Homo sapiens: one gene and its partners. The protein of the gene in region 1 purifies or fractionates together with the protein of each later gene. This does not show direct contact. Each region holds a gene or a part of one and is shown in the gene's direction. Other genes may lie near its edges.

Region 1 (7,107 bases):
ACTGGAGCACAACAAAACAGTGTATGGCACCCTCCTCCTGTTGCTTGTTAGATTCTAGAATTTTCAGTTGTCTGGTCTCCTCCAGAGGGGCTATTTCTTTTTCTTTTTTTCTTTTTTCTTTTTTTTTTTTTTTTATTTGAGACAAGGTCTCACTCTTGTCACCCAGGCTGGAGTGCAATGGCATGATCTCAGCTCACTGCAACCTCTGCCTCCCGGGTTCAAGCGATTCTCGTGCCTCAGCCTCCCGAGTAGCTGGGATTACAGGTGCACGCCACCACGCCCGGCAAATTTTTTTGTACTTTTTTGATAGAGATGGAGTTTCACCATGTTGGCCAGGCTGGTCTCAAACTCCTGACCTCAAGCGATCCGCCCGCCTCAGCCTCCCACAGTGCTAGGATTACAGGCATGAGCCACTATGCCCAGCAAGCTATTTCTGTTTATCACACTCAAGACCAAACTATAGGTGCTGGTGCTGCTAAAATCCTGCCCTCAGCAGGGACTGCCCCCTTGCCCCGTATCCAAATTCATGTTTAACTGATCTCTATTGAATATTTATTGTGTGCCCGGCACAGAGTTCTGTTTTACTGCCTCATGTTATTTAAGAGGGGACAACCCTAGAGGGTGGGACCTTTTCCTTTGCCCTGAAAATAAGTGGGGATTAAGATGTCTTTCAGGATTCCTGGTGTCTTTGCTAGTGCTGATCAAGTCACTCCTCAGCTTAACATTCTTCTTTCAGTGGTTCGTCTCTGGGATAAAATTCAGTATCCTTTATATGACAGACAAGACCTTTTGTGATCTACTTGTTTATTCTCATTTCCTGCCACTCCTCCTCTCTTGTTCTTTATGTCCTAGCAAGACTGAACTACCTATAGTTCTGGGAAAATTTTATACTCCTTTATGCCTTTTTGTCTTTGTACGTGCAAACTCCCACTAATGCCCTCTCCCCTTTGCAACTCACAGACTGTAAAAGGTGTAAAAGTCCTTCTTCCTCTTGGTTCCCATTGCACTTTGTGTGCGTCTTTATTAAAAAGTAATTATTTAATCATATCATAGTTATAAATATATCTGTGTCATTCGTTAGCCAGAGCTTCCTGAGGGCAGAGATGTCTTCTTTTCATTTTTGGTATCCCCAGAACCTAGTTCAGTGCTAAACATGTAATAGATGCTGAGTACATTTTTGAATGAGTTAATGAGTCTTCATGAAAAAAAGCTGTTGCCTGGGGCCCTTACTTTGGATTGTATGGGAAATGTGTAGGTTCAGACCTGTAAAATGGGCTCCTGCTAACTCCTCACTCTGGAAACAGGGAACAGGAATGAATGCTTCCTGACTGCTTATGTCTGCCGGACCCCATGACAGGGACTTGGGACAAATTATTTAGTCTATATGCAAGCCTGAAAGTTGGATATTTCTCTTTTAAATAATGTTCTTAATTTTTTCTTGCTCTTATAGTGAGACCTGCTTGTTGTAGAAAACACAGAAAAAGAATAAAGAAGGAAATATAACTCACCTAAGTCTACTACTGTCTGGCACAATCCACTGTTAAATTTGTTGTTGCATTAACTCCCATCTTTTGACTTAGAATATAAACATATTTTTACAAGATGGGATTGCGTTATAAATACCATTTTACAACCTATTTTTTATTTCTAGTTAATGTTACAATGTAATTGCCAGTTCATTAAATATTCAGCTAAACTTGATTTCTGATATCCCACAATATATATGTGTCACCGGTTAATTTGGTAATTTCCTTTATGGTTGGACATTGTACTTTTTTGAACATTATTTGTACTTTTTTATATTATAAATAATGTGAGGAAACTTTGGGCGTTCTGGAAAGGTTTTGCATCTTGATATGAGTGCTGATTAAAACAAAAACATTATGGAAAGCATCTTTGCCTAGTAGATACTTGACATTTATTTATAAGGAGCACCATTGAGGCCTTAAAGAATTCTAAACTTACAAATACAGAAATGGGCTTATGGGCCAGGCCCCTCTTTAATCACATTTCTGTGGTGAGTTGTGTGTTTCTGTGTACACTCTAACACAAGTTAACTGCCTTAATTTTTTTCCATGAAATACACCAAATTTTAAAAATCTCTTTTGCTTCTCTCTATGGGCCCCCACTGAACAAGGAAGCTAGCTGAGAATCAGGTCCTTGGGGGTGGCTGCTCTTGCTTACTCAGTGCATTGCTCACAGAAACACACCAGGCTTATAGTGCGCCATTTAAGTTTGTACTTCAGCACAATTGGAAATTACTACATACTGTGGACTTTTTATGGTTGCTTGCAAGAGTTAAGCCAACAAATTTTAAATCCACAGATACCTAGAGGTGATAGAAATCTGTTCATATCTCTAGTGACTTCTTTTTTTTTTTTTTTTTTTTGAGACAGAGTCTCACTCTGTTGCCCAAGCTGCAGTGCAGTGGCACGATCTTGGTTCACTGCAACCTCTGCCTCCTGGGTTCAAGTGATTCTCCTGCCTCAGCCTTCTGAGTAGTTGGGATTACAGGTGCGCGCCACCACACCCGGCTCATTTTTGTATTTTAGTAGAGACAGGGTTTCACTATGTTGGTCAGGCTGGTCTCGAACTGCTGACCTCGTGATCCACCCACCTTGACCTCCCAAAGTGCTGGTATTACAGGTGTGAGCCACCATGCCCGGCCTCTAGTGACTTTTGTAGGATAGATTTCTTGAAGTCCAGCTAGGGATTATGGAATATAATGCCAAGTTACTTTTTGGAAAGGTTATAACAAGCGAGGCAACTATTCCATTTTGCAGCTGAGAATCTGGAATTCGTGGAAGTTAAGTGACTTTCTGAGTGTGGATTTGAACTTTGAATTATTTGATTCCAGAGCCCAGGTTCTCAGAAGTGCAAAAAACATGGTATTGCTTCATTCTTCCTGTAAGAAGCTGGATTTTGCAAAAACACTTTGATTTGTACAGCGGTGGTTCTCAAACTTCAGCATGTATCAGACTCACTTGGAAGACCTGATGAAACACAAGTTAGGGATGCCCTAGCTACAGTATTTCTGATTCAGTAGGTAAGAAGGGCCCACCCTTGAGAACCACTGATTTAGAACATTATCCTGTCTTGATTCCTTCCCCTTCTGCGGAGTGTGATAGCTTCTGATACTGAGGGATGGATGGACTAACATATCATTACTGTACACCAGTCATTCTCTTTTTTTGGTACAGAAAAATTGGAATGAACATTCTTTTTATATTATTCTTTTTTAATTCCTAAGTGAGCTAACACAGGAGGAACGACCTTTTTTAAAGTACAGTTCATCAACTGGGAATTTGTTCAAAATGCAATTTCTTGGGCTAGGACTTGGACTCAGCAGTCTATATTTTAACAAACAAGTGATCCTGATTCACCCTAACATTTGAGAATCATTGCTGTACAATAGTGGAGAAAACTAGTTGGCAAGCATTTATTGATTTCTGGGATTTTTAGCACAAATTTCACTCTACAGTTTTCCTGTTTATAAAAGAAATATTGGTTGATACATGCCCAAGGGAATAACTTTGGTGTGGATTTTTAACTCTAGAGGAAAGGACACTGATTTCAGATCTGGGTTCAAATTCTGATTCTGTTACATATTAGCAAATAATTTCTTATCTGTGAAGCCTTAGTTTCCCTGAGAGGTTGTGATGATTTAAATAAAATGGTTATAGCTATCGTTTATTGAGCACAAGCTAGTGTTCCACTCACTATGCTAACCACTTCGCCTAATTATCTTTATCTTTTGGGGGAGTTTTAAAAATTATTCCATTTAGTAGTTATAGGACTATTCAAATTACCTATTTTATGTTGGATGTGTACTTTCCGAGAATTGACCCATTTCATCTAAGTTGTCAAATTTATGTTTGTAGAATTGTTCATAGTATTTCTTTATTATCCTTTTGATATCTTCAGGTGCTGTAGTGATAATTTTGTTTCATTAGTGATACTAAAAATGTATCAGGCTGGGCATGTGATGTCATTCATGCCTATAATCCCAGCACTTTGGGAGGCCAAGGCTGGTGGATTGCTTAAGCCCAAGAGTTCAAAACCAGCCTGGGCAACATGGTAAAACCCCGTCTCTACAAGAAATACAAAAATTAGCAGGGTGGGTGGCACATGCTTATAGTCCCAGCTGCCCGGGAGGCTGAGGTGGGAGGATTGCTTGAGCCCAGGAAGTTGAGGCCTCAGTGAACTGTGATCATGCCACTACACTCCAGCCTGGGTGACAGAGCGAGACCCTGTCTCAAAAAAACCGAAAACAAACAAACAAAAAAAATTTGTCTTCGTATTTGTCAGACTTGCTAGAGGTTTGTCAGTTTTATGGATCTTTTCAAAGAACAAGCTTTTTGTTTCATTGACTTTTTCTGTTGTCTTTCTGTTTTCAATTTAATAGATCTCTGCCTTTACTATTTTTTTCCTCCTTTGGTTTATTTTGCTCTCTATCTAGTTTCTTGAGGTGGGAGATTAGATTATTGATTTGAGACTTTCTTTTCTTTTTTTTTTTTTTTTTATTTTTTCTGAAACAGCCTGTTGCCCAGGCTGGAGTGCAATGGCGCGATCTCGGCTCGCTGCAACCTCCACCTCCCGGGTTCAAGTGATTTTCCTGCCTCAGCCTCCCTACTAGCTGGGATTATAGGCGCTCGCCACCACGCCCAGCTAATTTTTTGTATTTTTAATAGAGATGGGGTTTCACCATGTTGGCCAGGCTAGTCTCGAACTCCTGACCTCAGGTGATCCACCCGCCTCGGCCTCCCAAAGTGTTGGGATTACAGGCGTGACCCACAGCACCCGGCCTTTCTTTCTTTTCTAATGTAAGCCTTTAGCTGTTAAGTTTCTTCTCAGCACCAATAGATTTTAATATGTTACATTTTCCCTTTTCATGTAGTTCAAGGCATTAAAAAAAAAAAAAGTTTTTTTTTTTTTTTTTTTTTTTTTTTTTGAGACAGTGTCTCAGTCTGTTGCCCAGGCGGTACTGCAGAGGCAGGATCATAGCTCTCACTGCAGCCTCCAGCTCCTGGGCTAAAGTGATCCTCCTGCTGCCTCAAGGCATTTTTAAATTCCCCTTGAAACTTCCTGTTTGACCCATGAAGTATAGAAGTATGTTGTTTAATTTTGAAGTTTTTGTAGAGTTTCCTGTTATCGTTCTGTTACTGACTTCTAGTTTGATAGTGGTCAGAGAATATACTTTGTATGATTTCAATTCCTTTACATTTATTGAGATTTGTTTTATAGCCCAGAGTCTATCTTGGTAAATGTTTCATGATCACTCGAAAAGAATGTGTATTCTGCCATTTTTGGGTAGAGTGTTCTATAAATGTCAATTAACTACTGTTGGTTAATGGTGTTGCTGAATTCTTCTAATCCTTGCTGATTTTTTCTTTTTTCTTTTCTTTTTTTTTTTTTTTTTTGAGATGGAGTTTCGCTCTTGTTGCCCAGGCTGGAGCGCGATTTGGCTCACCGCAACCTCCGGCTCCCAGGTTCAAGCGATTCTTCTGCCTCAGCCTCCTGAATAGCTGGGACTACAGGCATGTGCCACCACGCCCAGCTAATTTTGTATTTTTAGTAGAGACGGGGTTTCTCCATGTTCGTCAGGCTGGTCTTGAACTTCTGACTTCAGGTGATCCGCCTGCCTCGGCCTCCCAAAGTGCTGGGATTACAGGTGTGAGCCACTGCACTCGGCCTACTCATTCATTCATTCATTTATTTTTGAGACAGGGTCTCTATGTCACCTGGGCTGGAGTGCAGTGGTTTGATCATGGTTTACTGCAGCCTCAAATTCCAGGGCTTAAGCAATCTCCTCATGCTTCAGCCTCTACAATAGCTGAAACTGCAAGCATGTGCCACTGTGTGCCCTAATTTTTAAAATTTTTTGTGTGGGGAGGGTGTGGGTGTAGGTTGGTGGTACCTCCCTTTGTTGCCTGGGATGGTCTTGGACTTCTGGCTTCAGATGATCCTCCCACCTCAGCCTCCCAAAGTGCTGGGATTACAGGCATGAACTACTGCTCTTGGCCCGAGTTATCTCTGTATTGCTTTTTTCAGTACTTGCTCTAGGTATTACATTATACATATAACTTACCATAAGCAACTGCTCTTGACATTTTACCAGTTTGATTGAAGAGTAGAAACTTTACTTTTCTTTTTCCTTTTTTTTTTTGAGACAGAGTCTCACTCTGTCACCCAGGCTGGAGTGCAATGATGTGGTCTCGGCTCACTGCAACCTCTGCCTCCTGGGTTCAAGCGATTCTCCCACCTTAGCCTCCCGAGTAGCTGGGACTACAGGTGTGGTCCACCATAGCCGGCTAATTTTTGTATTTTTAGTAGAGACGAGTTTTCACTATGTTGACCAGGTTGGTCTCGAACTCCTGACCTCATGATCTGCCCGCCTCAGCCTCCCAAAGTGCTGGGATTACAAGCGTGAGCCACCATGTCCGGTTGAAACTTTACTTTTCTTTATATGCCTTAATGCTCTTTTGTTTATAATCTAATTAATCGTTTTGTTGTTGTTGAGACAGAGTCTTGCTGTGTTGCCCAGGCTGGAGTGTAGTGGAACAGTCACGGCTCACCTGCAGCCTAAACCTCCTGGGCTCAAGTGATCCTCCCACCTCAGCCCCCCACCCCCCAGTAGCTGGGACTACAGGCATGCACCACTATGCCTGGCTGATTTTTTTTTTTTTTTTTTTTTTTTTTGAGACGAAGTCTCGCTCTGTCGCCCAGGCTGGAGTGCAGTGGCGTGATCTCGGCTCACTGCAACCTCCGCCCCTCCAGGTTTAAACAATTCTCTGCCTCAGCCTCCAGAGTAGCTGGAATTACAGGCGCCCGCCACCACGCCCAGCTAATTTTTTGTATTTTTAGTAGAAACGGGGTTTCACCATCTTGGCCAGGCTGGTCTTGAACTCCTGACCTCAAATGATCCACACGTCTCGGCCTCCCAAAGTGCTGGGATTACAGGCATGAGCTACTGTGCCCAGCCTACTCATTCTTTTAGGATAAGTGTTGGCAACAGATACGTTTAGTTTTCCTTAATCTGAGAATATCTTGATTTCCCTTGAATTCTTAGGGGATCTTTTCACTTCATATCGAACTCTGGGTTTCTAG
Region 2 (7,107 bases), on another chromosome or scaffold:
TTGCTGTGGAGCCTGAGACCCCCCTGCTAGGAGAGGGGGTTGAGATTTGAGCCTTTGACTCAACTCCTGCTGACCCAATATGAACCAGCCATGGAGGTCTGTGGTCGGCCTCCCCTAGAAGGAGTCAGAAGTGGTCTGGGGCCATATGTAGGGAGGAGGTGTGTAAAATCAGGGTTCTCGGGCAAGAAAAGATCTTACACTCTGGGGGTGAGACAGCTTCCCCTCTTTTCTTCCTCTTCCCACTTTGTCCTTTTCCAAGTAAGAGATAGAGTCACCCCATCTCCACTCCTGCCAAGTTCACTTCACTGCCCTTTACTGGCCTATTGCCTTTGCCCTGCACTGGGCCCAGGGAACCTCCCACTGTCCTCAGTGGGCGGGGCTACAGGTAGAATGTATTTTGAGGGTCCCAGGAGTTCATAATTGCAGGCCTTGCCTCAACACAGAGCCTGGTGTTTTGCAGAACACTTGCAGAGCCATTATCTCTGTGAGCCTTATGGCAGTTGTGGCTAGGCAGGGAAGGGACCACTTATCGCCCCACTTGTAGATGAGGACCCAAAGCCTCCCAGAGGTAGGTAGAGACATGCCCGGAAGCAGGAACAGAATCAGATCCATGTTCTCCAAATTCTAGCCCCCTTTCTCCCAAACTTATTCTGGACAGTTTGTCCTGTCCCTGATGATAGGCTTGGATCAGGGGTTGCAGGTCTAGGGGCCTGCGAACCAGCCCCCTGAGCAGCTGGGCAGCGGGGAAGCCTCAGTGACTGGCCCCTACCTAGACTGGGCCATTTCCCCAGCTGCCAGCCAGCTCCTACCCCAGCAAAGGCCCTGTCTCTCCTGAGGGATGCCATAATCAGGGCCCAGAGGACAGTGGTGAGCAACAAGGCCACTGCCAGAAGAGGCCAACCTGGGGCTGTGGGTGTGATGAAGAGCGCTGTTCCCCTCCTTTTTCTCCCCTCTTACTCTTTGGCCAGCCAGGCCCTGCCCACTCACTGTCCCCTAGGGCAGTGGATTTTAAGGAGGCTTGGCTCCTCCCTGTCGGCCTGCCCTGCCCAAGTCAGCCTACCCTGCTACTCCCCCTTAGGAGCCTCACATCTGGCTGGGTCTTCCCTGGCACTGTAGAGGTGGAGGCCCTCTTCAGTTCTGGAGTTCGTCTTATCTCCCAACTCTGATGCTCCTTCCCTTGGTTTCTGGGCTCCCTTGAACTCCCCTAGCTCCGTGCTCACGGCCATCTCAGGGTCTCCCCTGCTTGCAGCTGCACTTGGTACAGCCTGTGCCAGCCCCTGAGGGACCGGCTGCAGCTTCACTGGCAAACAGGCGGGCAAGGGGCACAGGGCTGCTGGCCGGAGCTGCCTGCACTCTGCAGGTAGGGTTCAGGCAGGGGCCGGGGTGCGCAGGGGACGGGGTCCTGGATCTGGGGCAGGCCCCTCCCTCTTCCCTTTGTCCAGCTTTGGGACCAGTCCTGGAGTATTGGGAAATGGGCGCAGAGACTTTAAGGCCGGCTACCTAGGCAGATCCTGTAATCCTTCCCTAAGCCAGGGTGGAGGGTGCTGGAGGGGAGCACTCCTTACAGCCGGCTGAGAGAGGCAGTTTGGGTGTGGAAAGCTTCTCACTGAGGAGCTGGGGCTGCTGAGCCCAGGGAGGGTCCTTCGGGGTAGGCTGGAAGCCTTGGCAGCCCCCATAGACCAGCAGCTTCACGGCCCTCTGGTGCCAGCCTCCTCGTGGTACAGATGGAAAGTCTAGTCTTGATGAAGAAAGACCCCTGGCTTCTGACACTCCCTTCCCCAGGGCCCTCTGTGGTGCCCCCGGTCCAGATCCTGGGGCCTGAGTGGCATAGACTGTTTGTGGCAGCTCCTTTTGGAGGGGCAGGCTAAGGCCAGGCCACATTTTGGCAGCCCTGGGGCCCTGGGGGACAGGGCGGGCCTCCAGGGAGGAGGTAGGGTTCCCTTGCCAACCAGGCCCTCCACTTCCTCTCCTCTTCCCTTGAGGGCTCGTCCCTAGGTCAGAGCTGAGCAGCAGCTGCGGCTTCTCTTGTGCTGCACAGGTCTAGGATGTCAGGCACAGGGCCCTGCCCCTTTGAGTGGAGAATCTGCTAGTCCAGGGGCGGGTCTGATCCTGGGTTGCCTGCCCTGGGAGCTGCAGGCTGGGGGTCCCTGGTGTGGCCGCCTGGTCCTTACCAAGCACCTGGTGTGTGTCTCTGAGGGTGTCTGTGTGCGTACGTGCATGTGTGTGCACACGTACACACGTGCACCTGCCTCTGGGAGGTAGTCACGTGGAGATTCTCATGGCCTGAGGGATCAGGCTCTAGTCTCATTTGTGGAGGTAATGAATCTACTTGTTCTAGGGGCAGACTCAGAATCCCCACCCCAAGCCTGGAATGGGTGAGGGGTCCCTGCGTTAGAGGTGAGGGTGAGCCCTTTGGGAGCCACACACACAGGCCTACTCCTCAGCTACTGAGGAGGGACTGCCCTCTTTCCCGACCCTGGGCTCTCTCGGGAGCTGGCCTAGGCAGGGCAGGGGCCCAGGGCTTTCAGGGGCTGCCCCTCCACCCTTTGACCCTGGCATCACTGTCTCTGCAGAGGCTCGGGGTGGTCTGGGGGCCCCTCCGCTGCAGTCTGCCCGATCCCTGCCGGGCCCCGCCCCCTGCCTCAAGCACTTCCCGCTCGACCTGCGCACGTCTATGGATGGCAAATGCAAGGAGATCGCCGAGGTATCACCTGGCACCACCCGCACCCTCACCCCGTGTCTCCATGCCCTGCCTCTGCTCCCCACACCCCTCACCTCAAGCTGTCCCCTCACCTCACGCTTGGCTGTCTCCTGATCCTCAGCCTCTCCCAGGTACCCCTGGTCCTGCTGCCCTCACCCCATCCCCAGACTCTGTAGGAGAGTGCCCGAGGGCGGAGGGCCAGCCATGCTGACCTTCCTTCCCTCCCCCCAGGAGCTGTTCACCCGCTCACTGGCTGAGAGCGAGCTCCGTAGTGCCCCGTATGAGTTCCCCGAGGAGAGCCCCATTGAACAGCTGGAGGAGCGGCGGCAGCGGCTGGAGCGGCAGATCAGCCAGGATGTCAAGTGAGCCCGGCAGGCAGCTGCTTAGTCTCCCTCCATACCCTTCCAGACCCTTTCAGAGCCCCTTTTCTGCCTCTTTCCCTCGCACCCTGCCTTGGGGGGTCTGCACAGGGAGCATAGAGTGGGCTTTGGAGTCGGGCTGCTGGGTTCTGTTCTGTCTTCTAGCCGCCGGTGTGGCTGGGTCATGTTGCTTAACTTATGGGTCTGCTTTCTCATCTCTAAAGTGAGTGAGAACAGCACAGGGTTCTGCAGCTCTGCCTTTGAGGATCACATGTGACAACATGTGCACAGCACCTAGTGCGGTGCTGGGACCTGGGAGCAAGGGCCGTCCCTCGGGATCTGCCTGACTTCTCACCCCTCTTGCCTCTAGGCTGGAGCCAGACATCCTGCTTCGGGCCAAGCAAGATTTCCTGAAGACGGACAGTGACTCGGACCTACAGTGAGGAGGGCAGAGGGGCACAGGGGATGCGGAGCTGCAGCCTGCCCTTCTGCCGGCTCTAAACCCCTCCCTTGAATGCACCCCCTGCAGGCTCTACAAGGAACAGGGTGAGGGGCAGGGTGACCGGAGCCTGCGGGAGCGTGATGTGCTGGAACGGGAGTTTCAGCGGGTCACCATCTCTGGGGAGGAGAAGTGTGGGGTAAGTATGGGGTGTATGTTGGGTGAGTCGCCATCACCTATGTCTTAGTGGGTTCCCCCAGCCTGGAGAGCTGGGGGTGGGGGCTGGAAAGGGCGTTTCTCTTTCCAGCAGCTGGAGGGGCGGAGGGGCAGAGGGGCTGCCTAGGAGCCACTTGATGTGCTGGACCAGGGTGATCTGAGTGTTCCTGGGGGTCAGGGCCTGTGGGAGGTGGGGATAGTTTGGGTTCTAAGATAAGGCCTTAGGGAGGAGGTCTCTGAGTCCAAGACTGAGGAGAGTGATCGCATATCCTCATCTCCAGGTGCCGTTCACAGACCTGCTGGATGCAGCCAAGAGTGTGGTGCGGGCGCTCTTCATCCGGGAGAAGTACATGGCCCTGTCCCTGCAGAGCTTCTGCCCCACCACCCGCCGCTACCTGCAGCAGCTGGCTGAAAAGCCTCTGGAGACCCGGACCTATGAACAGGGCCCCGACACCCCTGTGTCTGCTGGTGGGACTCCCCATCTCTGCCCCATGCCATGTGCCCTAGCCTCCTGGGCTTCTCAGCCTGGTGCCTGGGCACCTCTGCCCTGCCTGCCTCTCCCTACAACCCAGGCTCATTCCAACCTCTTGGGGTACAGGGGTGGAGGTTGGGCAGGAGCTGTCTGACCTACTGGGTCTTCAACATCTCTTGCCCTCTGTGGGGCCTTTGGGTTGGGCAGTGGGTGGCTTGGAAGAGCCCTGCTCTGACTTTACCCTCCTCACCCCTGCAGATGCCCCGGTGCACCCCCCTGCGCTGGAGCAGCACCCGTATGAGCACTGTGAGCCAAGCACCATGCCTGGGGACCTGGGCTTGGGTCTGCGCATGGTGCGGGGTGTGGTGCACGTCTACACCCGCAGGGAACCCGACGAGCAGTAAGAGGGGTGTGGTGCATGTTGGGGGGATGCAGCGTGGGAGGTTGCGTTGGCTTGGGAGAGGCCACAGGGCTCGGCTTGCTCTCCTCACCCAAGCTCCCCTCCATGCCAGTTGCTCAGAGGTGGAGCTGCCATACCCTGACCTGCAGGAATTTGTGGCTGACGTCAATGTGCTGATGGCCCTGATTATCAATGGCCCCATGTGAGTCCCCTGCCATCCCAGACACTTAGCTCCCCTCCCAGCCCAGATTCTCCAGCCCCAGTTCTGCCCCAGACTCCCATCACCTGGTGTCTTGCCCTTCCTAGTTGCTGAGCCCTCGACTTCCCCGCAGTCTACTTCCCTCTTGGCAGCCTCCATCCTTACCCTCCCACCTGCTCCCTCTGATCTGCTACCCAAGCCCTCCCCAGGTGCCTCCCTTCAGGGCCTAAGTCCCTGCCTTGTTCTCCTCATGCCCAGAAAGTCATTCTGCTACCGCCGGCTGCAGTACCTGAGCTCCAAGTTCCAGATGCATGTGCTACTCAATGAGATGAAGGAGCTGGCCGCCCAGAAGAAAGTGCCACACCGAGATTTCTACAACATCCGCAAGGTGGGCCCTCACCCCGTGGCCGTCTCCATGTCCTCATCCCACACCTCTGCCCAGCCTCCCCTTCAAGGGCCAGGCCCCCCACACAGCATCCAGTACAGAGGGTCCTTTCCCATTGCACTGCCCCAGGCCCCAGACCTTCCTGGCCTCTGGTGGATCAGCAGTGCCCTGTTCCATTCCAGGTGGACACCCACATCCATGCCTCGTCCTGCATGAACCAGAAGCATCTGCTGCGCTTCATCAAGCGGGCAATGAAGCGGCACCTGGAGGAGATCGTGCACGTGGAGCAGGGCCGTGAACAGACGCTGCGGGAGGTCTTTGAGAGCATGAATCTCACGGCCTACGACCTGAGTGTGGACACGCTGGATGTGCATGCGGTCTGTGCCAGTGGCGTGGGCTGTGGGACTGAGTCAGTCAGGGGACCAGGAGTCACGGGTGACCTGAGCCTTCCCATGTCCCCCAGGACAGGAACACTTTCCATCGCTTTGACAAGTTTAATGCCAAATACAACCCTATTGGGGAGTCCGTCCTCCGAGAGATCTTCATCAAGACGGACAACAGGGTATCTGGGAAGTACTTTGCTCACATCATCAAGGTAAGGAGGCAGCCTTCCCTGCCAAGCCTCGAGCCTGAGGATCTGGGGGCTTTTAGGGGGTGAGACTCAAGGAGGGTAGGCAGATGACCCCCTGAAGAGCTCTGACTCAGCTCACCTCATGTCTGACTCAGCTCACCTCATGTCTAGGAGGTGATGTCAGACCTGGAGGAGAGCAAATACCAGAATGCAGAGCTGCGGCTCTCCATTTACGGGCGCTCGAGGGATGAGTGGGACAAGCTGGCGCGCTGGGCCGTCATGCACCGCGTGCACTCCCCCAACGTGCGCTGGCTGGTGCAGGTGCCCCGCCTCTTGTGAGTGTCCCTGGAGTGGGAGGGGAACCTGCGGGGTCATATTCAAGGGGTCAGGGCCTGCCTCCTGCCCTCCTAGGATGGCTGAGCCTCCCTTGTCCCTGCCAACCCCTCTGAGTGCAAGGAAGGGCTTCCTGGTCCCATCCATGGTCTGTCCAGCCTGGCCCACCTGGGTATCCTTGCTTTCCCAATATGGTTCAGATGCGCCCCTGCGCTCTTGGGCCAAGCTCTGACCCTTGCTGGACCGCTGGGTTTCCTCCCACTGGCCCTGACTTGCACATACCTGCATGTTGTCTCACCTGCAGTGATGTGTACCGTACCAAGGGCCAGCTGGCCAACTTCCAGGAGATGCTGGAGAACATCTTCCTGCCACTGTTCGAGGCCACTGTGCACCCTGCCAGCCACCCGGAACTGCATCTCTTCTTAGAGCACGTGAGCAGGCAGCGCAGAGCTGGGTATGGGGAGGGCAGCCGGCTTCGCATCCAGCTGCAGCTCTGGTTCTGACCCCAGGGTTCTGTATTAGGTGGATGGTTTTGACAGCGTGGATGATGAGTCCAAGCCTGAAAACCATGTCTTCAACCTGGAGAGCCCCCTGCCTGAGGCGTGGGTGGAGGAGGACAACCCACCCTATGCCTACTACCTGTACTACACCTTTGCCAACATGGCCATGTTGAACCACCTGCGCAGGTGCCTGCACCACCCTGTGTCTGCTTGCTATGCCATCTCTCGCCCAACAAACCTCACTCTTGGCACCTTGGGCCAGGGCCACTAGACCTCTGACCCACCTGTTGCCTGGACTGGATGGGTTCTTTCTCTGCCCTTGGAGCTACATCTGTCACCCCTCACAGCCAGTAATCTACCCCTGTCCCCCTTATCCCAGGCCTGCATAGTTATTGGCTGGAGGACATATGCGTGCTGGGTGGGGGTCAGGGGCTCCGGTGAGCCCAGGTGATCCCAGGCTCAGGAGCTGACACTGTCTTCATGTCCCCCAGGCAGAGGGGCTTCCACACGTTTGTGCTGAGGCCACACTGTG
Region 3 (7,107 bases), on another chromosome or scaffold:
ATCTAGGATGGGGCGTCAGGCTCTGGAGTTTTAATCCATTGCTTTTTGCCCTGTATTTTACACTTAGAATTTTGTTAATGGGTCTTGGTTATCCCAGTGACATTGTTGTTGAGGTGCATCCAGTGCTCAGGCAGGTCACAGCAACAATGGCGTGTGTGCGTGCATGCGTGTGTGTGTGTGATGTTCCCCAGCCCCATGAACAGCACAGTGGAATATCATCTCAGCCACTGATTGTCAGCTCAGTGCTGGCCTCTAGAAGCTAAGCCTTATGGAATCCTGCATGTGGATCCTCTTAGATGATTTCTCTTACCTGAGTACCCCTGGTGGACCTGGCTTAGCAATGGTTTGTATGATAGCTCAGAAAACAAGCATTAAGTCCATCAGCACATTATACAAATTCAATAGGCAGAGAGTCACTTGCTACTCTCAAAGGATCGGCTTCTGAAATGCAGAAGGTGGAAGTTCTCATGTGACCCCATCCTTGCTCTGTAGAATGCCACCCAGAGGATGTTTGAAATTGACTATAGCCGGGACTCCTTCCTCAAGGATGGCCAGCCATTTCGCTACATCTCAGGAAGCATTCACTACTCCCGTGTGCCCCGCTTCTACTGGAAGGACCGGCTGCTGAAGATGAAGATGGCTGGGCTGAACGCCATCCAGACGTAAGTAGGAGGGCATGTGGCTCTCACCTAGGCCTGAACACCCACTCTGGAGAGAAGATACAACTGTATTTCTCAGGGTGGCTATTTTATTGCTCAGAAATGGGAAATGGTCCAGTGTGATGTTCTGGGAGGGGCTTGTCATGAGCCGGACTGGCCCTTTTTCAAATAATTAACTACTTCTTCCAATCTTCAATTTTAATCATCAGAAATCATTAAATAAATAGCTTAAAAAGGAAAAGGATGGGGGAAGCAAACAGAAGTAACAATGATTGAGCACTTACCAGATACAGGGCACTTTATACTAATGATTCCATTTCCTCGAGATAGGTATTATTGTTCCTGTTTATAGCTGGTGAAACTGAAATTTGCCCAAGGCCATATCTTTGGTCAGAGGTTCAGCTAGTATTTGAAGGGAAGGGAAGGCATGCAGGCAGCTGTAGCACAGGTATGGCTGTAGTCATACAAAAAGCTAGGTTAACAGGAGAAAAGCATAACAGATATGTAAGTTTTATCTGACATGAGAGTCTTCAGAAAAGAAGACCCAAGGAAAACTTTTTACACTTAGATTCCATGAAAGGTTCTGACCTAATGGTGGTGGACTGAAGTGGGAAACCCTCAAGGCCTGCCTCAACAGATTCTTCTTGGCCTTTCTGGGTGGCATTCCTTCCTTCTGGGTATGGAGCAGGACCCCTCTGCAATGAGGGTCTAGAAGGGAGAAGGGAGAGGTGACCTTTCTAGGTTTTCTGGCTTGCTTTGGGAGAGAGGGGTTCTAATTTCTATGACCCACACTGGGGGAAGATGAATTCTGGTTTGACTTGCTTCAGGGGAGAAGGAGGGGTGGGCAACAGAAGAGCAGGAGAAGGCCAGAGAAAGAAGATTTGCTTCTAAGGCCTTCCGATCTCCTTTAGTTCAAAGTACTTAGCATGCCAAGGTGCCATACTTTGGGGTATTGTTTTCTGAGCCCCAATAACAGAATAAGCCTTGTGCTTAGGTAGATTTCTGAAACCCAGTTTGGCTTTGTGGTTCTGCTGCGGTAATTGTATAACTTCAGGGTGTAGAATTATCCCAATAGCTATCTCTCTGCATCTCTTTTGCTATTGCAAAGTAACTAACTAACAGGCAAGAAAGTTGGTGTGGCTGGCTGCTCTGGCTCTTGCAGTGCTGATGTGGATTGCTGATAACTTCTCAAAGATGAAGAGTGAGAAAACCCAGAGGCAGATTCCGAAGATAGATACTTAGGGAGAATGCGCTCATTATTCTGGTTCTAAGGCCACTGGCAGAGTGAACCCAAGTTCACCTGTTTATAATTCCGACAGTGAGTTCTGGAAGACCAAGACTGTTCCAGGGAACCCTGAAATCATGGGATCACACACACGCAAAATGACACAACCCAGGGTCTTCAAAGAGAGCTTTGTGATGGTAATGGATGGCTCCATATTTAACTTTGTATCCCATGCTGTCTGTAGGTAGACAGAGGAGCTGGTAGAAGGTTTTGTCATTTTACCTCCTGCCACATGATTCCTGACAAAATCTTTTGTCAGAGGATCTAGGGCTTGGAGTTTTTCCTACACGTACTAAAAATTATTTCTTCAAAAAATAAATATGTCTCTTACTACTTTTCAGCAAAATATTCTTATTTTTCCTAAGCCTCACATGGACATATATAATTTTTATTTTTATTTATTAAAACAATTTTTTAGAGCTGGGGTCTTGCTCTGTCACCTGGCTGGAATGTAGTGGCTCAATCATAGTTCACTGAAACCTTAAAGTGGGCTCAGGTGATCCTCCCACCTCAGCCTCCTGAGTAGTTGGGATTACAGGCACTGCTACCACACCAGCTAATTTTTTTGTTTTGCTTTGTTTTTAGAGATGAGGTCTCACTATGTTTCCCATGGTGGTCTTCAACTCCTGGACTCAAGCGATCCTACTGCTTTGGCCTCCCAGAGTGCAGGGATTACAGAAGAGAGCTACTGTGCCCAGCTATAATTTTTATGTAATAGGAATTAGTGCTGATATAACTCTGGAGTTTTCTGTTGTTGTTGTTGATTTTAAGAAGTGTCCCCATGAAGTCTGACTAGCTTGGGGAGCTGCTGTAAAAATTCATAACAAGGCCCCTCCCAAGAGGCTGCCAAGCGGGAAGGTCTATGTGTCCTGTGGTTTATGGTTCTACACCATATCTTTCTCTATAGACAGTTTAGAAATTTATGTAGGATACTGGATTTTTGAGCTCTTTCCCCTTCCACAGAGCACCTCAATTCAATTATTTATGCAAAATATAATTACAAAAAGCTAAAAACCTGACTTACAAACAAGTATATAATGGACATATGTCAGAAATTTATTTAACTGGATAAAGAAAATGTGGTACATATACACCATGGAATACTACAAAAATCACAAAAAAGAATGAGATCATGTCCTTTACAGCAAACTGGATGCAGCTGGAGGCTATTATCCTGAGCAAACACAGGGACAGAAAACCAAATACCACATGTTCTCACTTATAAGTGGTAGCTAAACATCGAGTACATATGGACACAAAGAAGGGAACAACAGACAATGGGGCCTACTTGAGGGTGGAGGGTGGGAGGAGGGTGAGTTCCCCTATCGTGTACTAGGCAGATTATCTGGGTGACTAAATAATCTGTACACCAAACCCCCATGACACGCAATTTACCTGTATAACAAACCTGCACATGTACCCCTGAACCTAAAATAAAAGTTTTTAAAAATTTATTTAACTTATTACTGAGGAAACTAGCTAGATGGTAAAGCTAATTCAAAGGAGAATTTGAGGAAGGGAGGTTTACGGTCAGTCAAGAAAGTCATGTTCAAATAAAGTTATCTTTAGAGATAAAACTGGTTAGTATCATAAAGGGCAATGAATGAAAAAGCAACCTTTAGAGTTGTCTTCTCTGTATGACAATCATTTGTTTCTCTCTCAGGCAATAATCTACAAATTAATCTGTAACTTCAAAGTTCTTCCCTTAATCAATAGTAAATAGTAAGTCAAACAAAATATCTCCCCTGGAGAATGAAGGAAGCCTCAGTGGGCCCATTGGACAGTCCTCCATTATAACATGGAAAGGAAATGCAGTCACCCTTTTGCCTTATATCCAAATTCTGGATAATTTTTCTTTTCTTTTCTTTCTTTATTTTGACACAGGGTCTCACTCTGTCATCCAGTTTGGAGTGCAGTGGCACAATCACAGCTCACTGCAGCTTCAACCTCCCTAGCTTAAGCAAACCTCCACCTCAAGCCTCCAGGGTAACTGGGACCACAGGCATACACCCTGGCTAATTTTTTTGTGTTTTTTGTAGAGACGGGGTTTCACCATGTTTTCCAGGCTGGTGTCAAACTCCTGGGCTCAAGCCATCCACCCACCGTGACTTCCCAGAGTGCTGGGATTAGAGGCCTGAGCCACTGTGCCCAGCCTTGGATAATTTTTCTTTCAAAGCGCCTTCTCCCTCTTATCCATGTGTTAGCAATAGTCCTAATGAGGCCCTTTCCCCACGCTTCTTTCTTCTTGACTCTGCCAAGTATCCAGGAAGGGGCTGTGTGTGTCTTGGCAGGTATGTGCCCTGGAACTTTCATGAGCCCTGGCCAGGACAGTACCAGTTTTCTGAGGACCATGATGTGGAATATTTTCTTCGGCTGGCTCATGAGCTGGGACTGCTGGTTATCCTGAGGCCCGGGCCCTACATCTGTGCAGAGTGGGAAATGGTGAGTGTGGCTAGACTGGGCTCTACCTGGTGTGTGTGAGCTGGCAGGCAGCAGCTCTGGGGCAAAGGGAATTAAAGCAGACCTGCATTCCAGAGAGCATGGGGCCTGGGACTGTACCCAGCACAGGTGTCTTTTACCTTGACAAGGTGCCCAGGCAGAGAAACAGGCCAGGGTCAGGGCATGGGCTCTCCTCTTGGTGGTCACTCACATACCTCAGCTTGCTCATCTGTAAGAAGCAGTTAATGGTGTCTTCTCTATCTACGTCACAGGGTATTTGTGAAATTAAATTGAAAAATCTTTATGAAAAGGGCTTTGGTCCTTAAAACATTGCATTCATGCAGAGTGATCTTAATTGTCCTACATTCCAATTTCTAATTTCTCTGCAAGTTATAAACCAAAAAGCCCAGCTCAAATACCCCTTGTCCCTTGAAGCTTTTATTCTTTTCCATAACTACTAATAGTAATTTCTATCTCCTCTGAGCACCCTTCACGGAACAGACATTATAATGGCTTGTTTTCCCTGAACTAGGGAGGATTACCTGCTTGGCTGCTAGAGAAAGAGTCTATTCTTCTCCGCTCCTCCGACCCAGGTAGGTTGTTACAGATGTCTTGAGAAGATTTATAAAAGCTTCAGCCTAGGTGCGGTGGCTCACGCCTGTAATCCTGACACTTTGGGAGGCTGAGGCGGGTGGATTACCTGAGGTTGGGAGTTCGAGACCAGGCTGGCCAAAATGGCAAAACCTCGCCCCTACTAAAAATACAAAAAATTAGCTGGGCATGGTGGTGGGCGCCTGTAATCCCAGCTACTCAGGAGGCTGAGGCAGAAGGATTGCTTGAACCCTGGAGGCGGAAGTTGCAGTGAACCGAGATCGTATCAATGCACTATAGCCTGGGTGACAAAGCGTGACTCTGTCTCAAAACAAACAAACAAACAAAAAAGCTTCAACAATTTATATCAAAAGGGGGAGGTATTTTGAAGGCTGGGGTACCTCTGCACAAATACTTTTGAAAGTTTAGTGAAAGTCTGAGTGTTTATCACTGACCAGTGCATAGCAACAAACTAAACCTCTAGGAAATTAGGCTTTGAACTACGTAACCAGATCTTACTGATAAACTGGTAATTCTTTGAATTGGTATTGAACCCTGTTTGCGGTTGACCAACTGACTTCAGTGCTTTCTCTTCCTATTTACTTAGCATATTCCACAGCCAATGATAGCACCTCGCTAATCAAAATGACAAGTCAGGCATGGTGACTCACACTTGTAATCTCAGCACTTTGGGAGGCCAAAGTGGAGGGATTGCTTGAGCCCAGGAGTTTGATACCAGCCTAGGTAACATAGCGAGACCCTATCTCTATAAAAATTAGCCAGGTGTGCTGGCACATGCCTGTAGTCCGGGAGGCTGAGGTGGGAGGATTGCTTGAGCCTGGGAGGTTGAGACTGCAGTGAGCCATGATTGTACCACTGCACTCCATCCTGGGCAACAGAGAGGGACTTTGTCTCAAAAAAAGAAATAAGGTCGGGCGTAGTGGCTCATGCCTGTAATCCCAGCACTTTGGGAGGCCGAGGTGGGTGGATCACCTGAGGTCAGGAGTTCGAGACCAGCCTGACCAACATGAGGAAACCCTGTCTCTACTAAAAAATACAAAATTAGCTGGGTGTGGTGGTGCATGCCTGTAATCCCAGCTACTCGGGAGGCTGAGGCAGGAGAATTGCTTGAAGCTGGGAGGCAGAGGTTGCAGTGAGCCCAGATTGCGCCATTGCATTCCTGCCTGGGCAACAAGAGCGAAACTCTGTCTCAAAAAAAAAAAAAAAAAGAAATAAAAACAAAATGACAGTTTCTGGGATGGTGTCATTGGATTGCTTGGTAGCTGCAATGCCTTCTATATTCTGGCCACTTTTATAGAGCAATGTGTAAATGATAGTTTTTTTCTTTGTCTTACTCCAGTACCTTCATGTTTTGCACGCTTAGCATATTATTGGTGTTTTCACTGTGGTAACTCATTTAATCTTTATGCCAACTTTATGTGGCATGTACATTTATTATTCCTATTTGACAATATAAATATAGAATTTATTAGAACTTCATTTTATACGGAAAAAAAGCCTTCCTGTGACTGAGAAGAGGATACACTGTTCAGTCACTCTTTTCTTCATTCAGCAAACATTGCTTGGATATGTTCTATGCTCCAGGCTTTGTGTCCTGTGGCAAGGATGGTCTTAGTCTGTTTTCTGTTGCTTGTAACAGAATACCTGAAACTGAGTAATTTATAAAGAAAAGCATTTATTTCCTACAGTTATGGAGGCCAAGAAGTTCAAGGTGGAGGGGCTATATCTGGTGAGGGCCTTCTTGCTGGTGGGGACTCTGCAGAGTCCTGAGGGGGCACAGGGCATCACATGGTGAGGGGGCTGAGTGTCCTAGCTCAGATCTCTCTCCCTCTTCTTATAAAGCCACCAGTCCCATTCCCATGATGACCCATGAATCCATTAACCTATTAATCTATTAATCCATGAGTGGATTGATCTACTTATGAGGGCTGAGCCCTCATGACTCAACACCTCTTAAAGGCCCCACCTCTCAATACTACCACATTGGGGATTCGATTTCAACATGAGTTTCAGAGGGACAAACATTCCAACCATAGCAGATGGATACAGGCACACTGGTCCTCGTCCCCTGAGGAGCTCAGCTGAGGAGACAACTACATGCAGGACAACTTT

What was found.
Region 2: the proteins of PHF8 (region 1) and AMPD2 purify together in Homo sapiens (co-immunoprecipitation; 2 studies listed by BioGRID and IntAct, with this or other methods). This does not show direct contact.
Region 3: the proteins of PHF8 (region 1) and GLB1 purify together in Homo sapiens (co-immunoprecipitation; 2 studies listed by BioGRID and IntAct, with this or other methods). This does not show direct contact.

Annotation. Positions count from the first base shown.
Region 1 is NC_000023.11:54,034,416-54,041,522, reverse strand, and holds part of PHF8 (histone lysine demethylase PHF8), read left to right. Parts: intron 1-7,107. UniProt on the Homo sapiens protein: Histone lysine demethylase with selectivity for the di- and monomethyl states that plays a key role cell cycle progression, rDNA transcription and brain development.
Region 2 is NC_000001.11:109,622,730-109,629,836, forward strand, and holds part of AMPD2 (AMP deaminase 2), read left to right. Parts: intron 1-1,299; exon of another isoform or gene 1,300-1,360; intron 1,361-2,573; coding exon 2,574-2,704; intron 2,705-2,932; coding exon 2,933-3,063; intron 3,064-3,430; coding exon 3,431-3,499; intron 3,500-3,589; coding exon 3,590-3,698; intron 3,699-3,996; coding exon 3,997-4,183; intron 4,184-4,445; coding exon 4,446-4,587; intron 4,588-4,699; coding exon 4,700-4,789; intron 4,790-5,044; coding exon 5,045-5,174; intron 5,175-5,353; coding exon 5,354-5,548; intron 5,549-5,634; coding exon 5,635-5,766; intron 5,767-5,913; coding exon 5,914-6,077; intron 6,078-6,379; coding exon 6,380-6,506; intron 6,507-6,597; coding exon 6,598-6,761; intron 6,762-7,066; coding exon 7,067-7,107. UniProt on the Homo sapiens protein: AMP deaminase plays a critical role in energy metabolism. Catalyzes the deamination of AMP to IMP and plays an important role in the purine nucleotide cycle.
Region 3 is NC_000003.12:33,066,099-33,073,205, reverse strand, and holds part of GLB1 (beta-galactosidase isoform a preproprotein), read left to right. Parts: intron 1-492; coding exon 493-662; intron 663-4,235; coding exon 4,236-4,386; intron 4,387-4,915; coding exon 4,916-4,976; intron 4,977-7,107.